Linked DNA regions of Homo sapiens. The protein of the gene in region 1 interacts with the protein of each later gene in a biochemical or structural test. Each region holds a gene or a part of one and is shown in the gene's direction. Other genes may lie near its edges.

The links.
Region 2: the proteins of CYLD (region 1) and TASL interact in a test that uses a peptide from one of them, tested with the Homo sapiens proteins (one large-scale study listed by IntAct).

What each region holds. Positions count from the first base shown.
Region 1 is NC_000016.10:50,772,600-50,777,164, forward strand, and holds part of CYLD (ubiquitin carboxyl-terminal hydrolase CYLD), read left to right. Parts: intron 1-2,566; coding exon 2,567-2,575; intron 2,576-3,579; coding exon 3,580-3,678; intron 3,679-4,565. UniProt on the Homo sapiens protein: Deubiquitinase that specifically cleaves 'Lys-63'- and linear 'Met-1'-linked polyubiquitin chains and is involved in NF-kappa-B activation and TNF-alpha-induced necroptosis.
Region 2 is NC_000023.11:30,574,633-30,579,800, reverse strand, and holds the start of TASL (TLR adapter interacting with SLC15A4 on the lysosome), read left to right. Parts: upstream 1-2,034; 5' UTR 2,035-2,163; intron 2,164-2,934; 5' UTR 2,935-3,049; intron 3,050-5,168. UniProt on the Homo sapiens protein: Innate immune adapter that mediates the recruitment and activation of IRF5 downstream of endolysosomal toll-like receptors TLR7, TLR8 and TLR9.

The sequences.
Region 1 (4,565 bases):
GATGAGCATTTAGGTTGTTTTCAATCTTTTGCTGTTATAAACAGTGCTTCAGTGAATAACTTTGTATCTGTGTATCAGTTAGCATGTGTGCCAGTATAAAAAGATAACTTCCTAGGAGTAGAATTGCTATGCATTTTACATTTTGATAGACAGTAATACATGGCTTTCATAGAGATTGCTTGTCAATCGGAGTCACCATGAATGTTGCCTGTATAGGCAGTACTCCTGGTCCTATGAGACAGTTAGAGCTGGAGCCCTGAAGAAGGATAATTTGAAGCACCAGATATCAGCATGCAACTTTTGGTGTTATCTATATGGCACCTTCAAGCATTTCTTGAAGAATTTTTCATATACTATTATGGAAAATATTTATTCTGAGCAGGAACCCAACCTTTTAGAGATTTTTGAATAGTTGCTATGTAGGATATTTCTGGCATCGGGTTTAATAATACCTCATTCTACTCAAGTAAACTGTATTTTCTTCACAAGATTTCTGTGGATGTTAAATTCTCATTTGAGTCTGAATTATGCTCTTGTGGCTGCTGATGTTAAGCGGTACATTAATTAAACAATTTCTCTTAATTTACTGGGTCATTCAAATTCATAGACATTTCATTTGATTTGAACAATAACTTGTTCACTAGTTTATTGTTATGATTTCCTGCTCAAGATTCTCCAAGGGATTTTTCTTTTTCTGGTTAAATCAACAAGTGATGGATAAGCTGTGAATTTTATCATTTAAATGCAATCTTGCTGTGTATACATAATGGATACTTTTGGTTTGGTTTCTTTTGCTGAACACAATGTCCATGTTGCCCTGTTTATCAGTAGTTTGTTCCTTTTTTATTGCTATGTAGTATTCCATTGTATGAATAGACCATAATTTGTTTCTCTATTCTTCTGTAGAATAGCTTGTTTCCAGCTTTTGATTAGAATGAATAGGGCTGCTCTGTACATTTTTACTCATGCTGTTTGGTGGAATTATCTTCTATATCTTTTAATATCTTTAATCAGGTTTGTTTTAATCACACAAAATTGCCAGCTGAATTTATCTTACCTTGCTTTCCATCCCATATTTATCTTTTTCTGAGTTGGTAATCACTTATAATTCATTTAACTTTGAAAGCTTTGCTTCATGACCCAAGTAGTTTTGGGCCATGAACACAGTTGTGACAAAGTAATAAGAAATATTTGGTGTGTAATTGCTGGAGGGCAATTAGAGGTGGTTTGTGCCCCTTTGTCTGTATAGAATTCTGATGGAATGTCTTCTTCTTCAGAGCTGATATTTGACCCCCTCTCAGACAGCCTTTGACAGAAGGTAGCCACAGTTTCCAACTCCAGTGCCCCCCTGCTCACATTCCTAATCTTTGGAGCTCCTCCCTAGTGTCACCTGCAGAACTGTCACCACCGGCCATCCAGTTGGCTCTCCAGTCCTGCCAGGCTACCTTCAAAGCCTAACAAAGGGAAGAGCACTTGCTTCATTTGTTATAATGGTTACTAACTATATAATGGATCTATATCGTGGTATACATGTGAACATACTTTAAAAATGTTATATGCAGTTAATTACAGTTAATAGTGGGAGTTGTTTTTCTTTAGGAAATTTATATGCTATAATTTAGGAACTCTTCTCAGTGACTAAGATTTTCCTTCTGAAGTATCTGTCATGGGTGCTATTTAAAGATATCTGAATGACAACATCATAAAAGAACAGTGGTCTCCTCTTTCATCAAGGGATACTTCCAAGACCCCCAGTGGATACCTGAAACTATGGATAGTACTGAACCCTACGTATACTGTGTTTTTCCTCTACATTCATGCCTCTGATAAAGTTTAATTTATATATTAGGCACAATAAGATATTGAAAACAATAATCAGAGAAGAGACAATAATAACAATATGGCAACATCACTACTCGTGTACTTCAGGACTATTATTAAGTAAAATAAGGGTGACTTGAATGTAAGCACTGTGATACTGCAATAGTTGATCTGATGACTGAGGTGGCTACTAAGTGACTAACAAGGCAGGGAGTAGACACAGTGTGGAGATGCTGGACGGGGATGGGTTACGTCAGGGGTTATGGATTAGGATGGTGCAAGATTTCGTTATAATACTCAAAACAGCATGCAACTTAAAACTTACGAATTGTCTGTTTCTGCAATTTTTTATTTAATATTTTTGGACAGTGGTTGACTGTGGGTAACTGATACCGTGGAAGGTAAAAGTGTGGATAAGTGGGGACCACAGTATTAGTACATAGCTTTTCTCTTATTATATCACTTGATCGAAATCGTGGTTAATTGGTATAATTTTTGAATTAAAATATTTTCATATTCTATTGGATCATATTATGAGATGTTTAAGATATAGTTTAATAACACATCCCCCTCCTCTTTCAACCATGGAAAAAAGTTACCAAGTATTTACATATAATTCATTTAGTAAATTTCCTCTTTTTTTAAGAAAAGTCTTTTCCTTGTGTTTAAAATGTAAAAATTTTCCTATTTCTTTCTTTCTGTCCTCAAATCCACTGTGGGTGATATCGTTTTTGCTGACACACAGCTTTATCAGGTATGACTCCTAAGTGTCGTGTTGGACTCCACGGATGTATTGTTGAATTTTTCAAAGGAAGAACTTTTCACACTGCCTCTTCTACATTCCCTTGATCAGTATTTAGGAGTATTCTATGATCATTGCTGGGCTTTAAGGTCTAGAGTGGTCTTTGTATTCAAAACAAGTTTGCCACACTTATTACACCTATATTTCAGAAATAATTGTGAGTGTTTTCTTCAAATATATTATTGTTGTGTGTCTCTGGCTTTCTGTATTTTTAATCTATGCATAATTCTCTATGTTTTCCTCTTTTATATGTATAAGTGTTTGTATACACATCTGTGTTATTCTTAACATATATGTTTTTAAAAACAGATATATGTTCTTAACCAGAACTTTCTTTCCTAACCATGATACATATTCCTAACCAGGCTTTTTTCAAACTGTGTTCATGAAATAATATTAATCTGAGATGCTAAGCAAAGTGGCACAAAAATTTTTATCAATAAGTTTATTTTGTTTCTCCCTGAGCAGTTCACAATGCACATTAGCATATTAAAGGCTCTGGTTCCGTGCAGTAAAGAAATTGTTTATCTTTGTTTATCTCAGCATCTTCAAGAAATATTTGAGTTCGAAACACTTCATAATACACAGGGGTGTTCTAAGCCTGCTGATTTGGGAAATGCTGTAAAAAACCGAGTAAGATTTTCTTTGTAGTGTTTTAAGAGATCAAATAAAATTGACTACAAGTGATTAAATTTTCAAGAGGTTAAAGCATTTAGCTGAATTGTATTTTGAGAGGGTATTTTCTTATAGAAATTACATTTTGAAATACAGCATTGGTTTTTTCCCCCATAGTATTATCTTTTTCAATACTTTTGATGGCCTTTAAAAGGCATTTGTAAAACTAAAAATTCTGCCTTTTTGTGGAAAGAGGGTTTTTTTATTTTGTTACTGTCATTCCTTGTTTCTCTTCTATAAGAATTTGCCTTTATCTTTAAAAAACATGCTTACTGTTTCAGAGAGTGTGACGCAGGAAAGGAGGCCTCCCAAACTTGCCTTTATGTCAAGAGGTGTTGGGGACAAAGGTTCATCCAGTCATAATAAACCAAAGGCTACAGGTATGGATTAATAGCATATAACCTTTAGTAATTTGCATAATGCCTAACTTGCCATAGCATTAAAAAAGATTATAAGCTATTACTTCTGAACATGTATGTAGACTTTTTTTCTTTCAAACATTTTTAGTAGTGAAACTAAAGTTTGTATATAAATACTGTTGCTTAAGCCAAGTGTTCCCAGCCTTTTTTACCTCAGGAAGAGTTCCCCATAGGGTCTTGTGTGTTTTGCTGGTCTATAATCAAATGGTTTTTGGAACTCCTTACTTGGAATATTTGTATGTATAGTTTAGGATTGCAACTGTGTAAAATAATCCTATATGGATAATGTTATATAGGATAAAGTATACTAGAGGTTAATTAAATGGATTTTGCTAACTAGATTTGGTACAAATTAAATCCCAAACTGCTAAGCAAAAATTTCTTCTCTTTCCCAGAAGCTTCCTCACAATATGTGTGGAGCTTACAGCTCTTTTTTTTGTTAGCTTCCACATACTTCATAGATTTATAGAATAGTAGTTATACAAGCCAAAGAGCTCATTAAAAAGGCTCTGAGAATTTTTGTTAACTCAGATGCGAGTTAGGAAAAGAATATTTTTTCCTCAATTATTACAATTTTGGCTCATTTAAAAGGAAATTGTACTTTAAGAATTATTTTATGTGACATTGGGGCCTGGGAGACTTAGGATTAATTGCAGGATATATAGGTAACAGTCTTTTTTATGTTAACCTATAGATCTATATAGGATAGCTCAAACTTGCTACTCTCACTTAAATAGAAACAGACTAAAGATTTTCTTAAGCTATGGCATGTTAATTGTATTGTAGTAGATCTTAAAGTTATAAAATGTACAGCTACCTGCTTTAATTTGAAAAGGGAAATCAGCTTT
Region 2 (5,168 bases), on another chromosome or scaffold:
AGATAAATGGATAAAGAAAATGTGATACATATACACAATAGAGTACTATTCGGCCACAAAAAAGAATAAGATCCTGTCATTTGCAACGACATGGATGGAACCAGAGGTCATTATGTTAAGTGAAATAAGCCAGAAACAGAAAGTCAAACATCACATGTTCTCACTTATTTGTGATATCTAAAAATCAAAACAATTGAACTCATGCACATAGAGAGTAGAAGCATGGTTACCAGAGGCTGGGAAGGGTAGTGGAGGGCTGGTGGGGCAGGTAGGGATGGTTAATGGGTGCAAAAACTAGTTAGAAAGAATGAATAAGACAAAGTATTTAATAGCACAACAGGGATACTGTAGTGAATAATAACTTAATTTTACATTTTAGTATAACTAAAATAGTATAATTAGATTTTTTGTAACACAAAAGATAAATGTTTGAGGGGATGGATACCCCATTTTTCATGATGTAATTATTATGCATCATATGCATGTATCGAAACATCTTATGTACCCCATAAATATATACACCTACTGTATACCTACAAAAATTAAAATACAAAATTTTAAAAAGAAATATTCTATTACATAAGCATGTATATACATATATTCCTTAAAAATACAAACTGGAAAATGAGTTCTTGCTAAACAATATATGTTAGAGATCTTTTTTTTTCTTTTTTTTTTTTTTTGAGATGGAGTCTCGCTCTGTCACCCTGGCTGGAGTGCAGTGGCACAATCTCAGCTCACTGTGACCTCCACCTCTCGGGTTCAAGGGATTCTCATGCCTCAGCCTCCGAGTAGCTGGGATTACAGGTGCCCACCACCACGCGTGGCTAAGTTTTGTATTTTTAGTAGAGACAAGGTTTCACCATGTTGGCCAGGCTGGTCTCAAACTTCTGACCTCAAGTGATCCACCTGCCTCGGCCTCCCAAAGTGCTAGGATTACAGGCGTGAGCCACCGCACACAACCTACATAGGATTTTAAGTATGCATACGTTCTCATTTACTTGGCCAATATCTTATTTATGGATATAATTTTTTCTAGTCATTTATTTTCTCAAGCAATGCTGCAACAAATATCTTTTCACATAAGTCTTTGTGTACAAGTGTAAACATATAGCTTGGACAAATTTATAAAAAATACAATTGTTGGGTCAAAGGGTATGAATATTTGTATTTGAGAGATACTGGGAAATTGCCCTCTAAATATGTTTACAATCTCATCAGTAGTGTTTGAGAGTGCTTGTTTCTTCACAACTTTGCCCACACCATGTATTATTGTTTTGACCTTCGGTATTTGGAGAGGGAAAACTTTTTTCTTTTTTTTTTCTTTTGAGACGGAGTCTCGCCCTGTCGCCCAGGCTGGAGTGCAGTGGCGCGATCTCGGCTCACTGCAAGCTCCACTTCCCGGGTTCACGCCATTCTCCTGCCTCAGCCTCCCGAGTAGCTGGGACCACAGGCGCCCGCCACCGCGCCCGGCTAATTTTTTGTATTTTTAGGAGAGACGAGGTTTCGCCGTGTTTGCCAGGATGGTCTCGATTTCCTGACCTCCTGATCCACCTGCCTCGGCCTCCCAAAGTGCTGGGATTACAGGCGTGAGCCACTGCGCCCGGCCGAGAAAATTTTTTTCATTTACATTTTTAAAAATTATAAGTACCATTGAGAAATAATACTTCTTAAAAATTATAGATTAGTAACGAAACAGAATTTCCTAAAGTCATATGTGACTTTGGCTTTCTTTTGGGTGAAGGATCCCAGATAATGTACTTTTCTAGAAAGGAAATTTAATTCTGTTGCTAGGGTTCTTACAAAATGTGTAACCATAAACTATTTTAATAAGAGACAGTTTCGTAGATAGGTTTCATTTTTCGAAAAAGGGGAAGAAACACCATTCTGTGGCTTGATGTGGCTTTGTCAGTTACTGCCTCCCCACCTCCCGGGACTTCCCACTGCCTCTTTAGCACAAATCGGACTTGAACAAAAACAACTCTTTTTCCATGGGACCAATTATAAAAAGAATGGCTTTGCACTGAGCAGCTCAGTCTACTGGTCTCATCAGTGAAAGGCTTGTGAAAATTTCTGGAAAGAGCATTGGCTGGCTTGTTCATCTCTCTGTTTGGTCAGTTGCTGTGTTTCTGCCGGATCAGATGAGCAGATTGGTTAGTGAAGGTAAGAAAAAGAAAGCAAAGGACCCTAGAACTCCGCTATTATTTTTTGTCATCTGTCTTCTCACGCTTTCTTAGCCCTTTATCACGAGAGCGCTGATCCATTCTTATGACATCTAAAATGCTTTTCTAGCTTACCATATCAGAGACAAGTGGGAGTTTAAACAAGCATTCAGTGGAGTTGAAAAATAAAGAGAAATTAAGCCCAATACTTCCTTTCCTTACCTCCTCGTGTCCACATTCTAAGCATTTCTAAAACACTTATATTTTTACCTACAATTTTTGACTGATCTGAGCAAATATTTATTGTGTTATTTTTGCAGTCCTCTTTCACTAATTGCCACACTGGTTTAGCTTCTGCATTTTTAAAAGAAGGCCTAAAAACCTAAGCAGGGTTTTGCAGGGACAACACAGCTCTTGAATTCAGTTACGGTGATGCAGTTTTAGAGACGAAAACAATCACAGTCCTTTCCAATTGGATTTGACTCTCAATTATTCAGTTCAGCAAGCTTGTGATAGTGTTTTTCTGTGTGGCAGGATGTATTCAAAATGAATGCGATCTATAGTGAGGATGCTTTTCGACTTTCATCTGGGTGATTTGGGGAAAGCTTCCCTTTTGGTATTAAAGATAGCGCATGTACGAGTGGAGTTTTGTTTGAATTATCTTTAGACTCGCTCAAACATTCTTTGTCTTGCGCATATGAATCTGTGCTTAAATATAGACCTGGTTTGGACAGAATATTTATATTGATATTTTATAACATTTCTTGCATAGGTCAGTGTGAGAAGAAGATTGTTTCTGAGCTTGAGAAGCTTCTGGAGGATTGAAGAGTATTTGAAGTCTGTGTCAAACATCCATATCATAAGTGGAATTTTGGAGATATTCAAAGGTAGTACACTAATTCTATTATCTCAGAGCAAAATGATGTTTGAAGTATTTATATCAAGTCACTGAGACATTTCTCATCTCATATGTAGTGATTATTTTAGATATATAAGATATTGTCCCTCTAGGCTCTTAATAAACATTATACAATGTAAATATGCCTTCATTAACTAAATATGGTTTTTTCCCCCTCCCAATTTTTATTTAGAAATGTTTCAAATCTATATAAAAATTGAAAGAATAGTACAACGAACACCCATATTTTCATCATGTGTATTAATCAGTGGTATCTTTTTGCCACATTTACTTTCTCTCTCGCTTTGTCTTTCTCTGTCTCTGCCTGTCCTTTTCTCTCTCTCTATATGTGTATATATATATTCACACACACGCATGCACATATGCACAGTTTTTTCCCTGAATGGTTTGAAAGTATGTTGCTGACTTTAGGACACATGTCACCCCTAAATTCTTGAGCATGTATCTCCTAAAAATAAAGGCAGTCTTCTATAACACATTACAACACCACGGAAACATAACATCAACACAATACTATTATCTAAGATGTGATACACATTCAAATTTTCCTAATTATCCACATGTCCTTTAGAATCTTTTTATGTTTTAAATCCAGGATCCAATCAAGAATCTTGCATTGCATTTGTAGTTGACATGCCTACAATTAAGTAAATGTTAATGAAATTGGCATAATTAACATGATTAACAATGATTAACAATTATAACACCAAAGAAATTTATATCAGTACAATACTATTATGATAGGTTTCTTATTTTTTTAGTCCTCTCATTTTGCATCAAAATACATTGAAAGTGATTCAAAAAATGATCCAAAAGGTTTAATTTTTCAATTTATATCAAGAAGGAGTATAAAGAAAAATCCAAACTATGATAAAATATATTTACTAATATTTCTGCACCAAAGTTTACATTTTCTGAACTAAGAAAATTCACACATCAGATCGTCCTTGGAAGTAGCCATTAACTTTGGTCATAAGAATCTAAGCAGAACCAAACAAAAAATTATTTATTTACTTGGTAATATTAATATGAAGAAGAGAGGGCTTTTGATTTATGATTGTATTATCTTAGCCATAAAGTTATACTTTCAGAAATTAATTTGTTAAGAATCACTTCATATTTGATACAAGAATAGATAATCCCAAATTATATGATTTGTAACAGAAATTGAAATATTAATGAGCAATATTTTAGAGCATTCATCAATAAATTCAATACAAGCTGAAATAATAGGGATATAATCTAAGGTATGTGATTAAGTGATTATTTCCAGCTCTAAGGAACAGGTATTTTTAAAGATAAGAGTAAGGAAACTGCAGATGCTATTTTATACAGGGAGGTCCTTCCTAAAGAAGCTTTTTGTTTAGGTAAAGGTCTAGCATCATTCACTGAAAAAAAACTGGAACATGTAATACAGATTTGGTTACATTATCATAATTAAATCATGAACAAAACAATATTCAAGTTTTTCAGTGATCACTTTTCAGCAATTTACCTGCAAGTCCCCCACACCAAGAAAGTCTTAAAAAGTTTACAATGGAATTATGGGATTTAGAATTTATATTATAGGGTAATATAATATAGAGGTAAAGAGATGAAATACAGGATTTTGAGTTTTGCAGGCATTAAAAAATAACACATGACCTACATATGATTTTAACAAGACTCTCTAATTTGAGACAAACATAAATTAGCTCATTTGATTGGAAAATTAAAAAAAAATAATGTGCTAAGGAATGTCAATGAAAACAATCTCAAACATTGCTGGTGAGAGAATAAATTGATCCAAGCTACTTGAAAGGAAATTTGGCAATAGCTTTGATCTGGTAATTCTGCTCCTCCAAATCTGGCCTGTGGAAATACTCACGGAGGCATATGCAATAATTACACATAGTGGAAAAGCAAGACTAATCTCAGTGCCCCTCAAGAGAAATGATTTACTAAAATAAGATGTGTCTTTAGATGTACTATTTCAAAACTCTTAAAAATTATATCTCTGTAAGCAGACATGTTGACAGGTAGAAGCCAAACTGTACCCCTGCTAGCTAGGCTCAAGATCACAAATGTTTTCCTGTCTGTAATTCCAA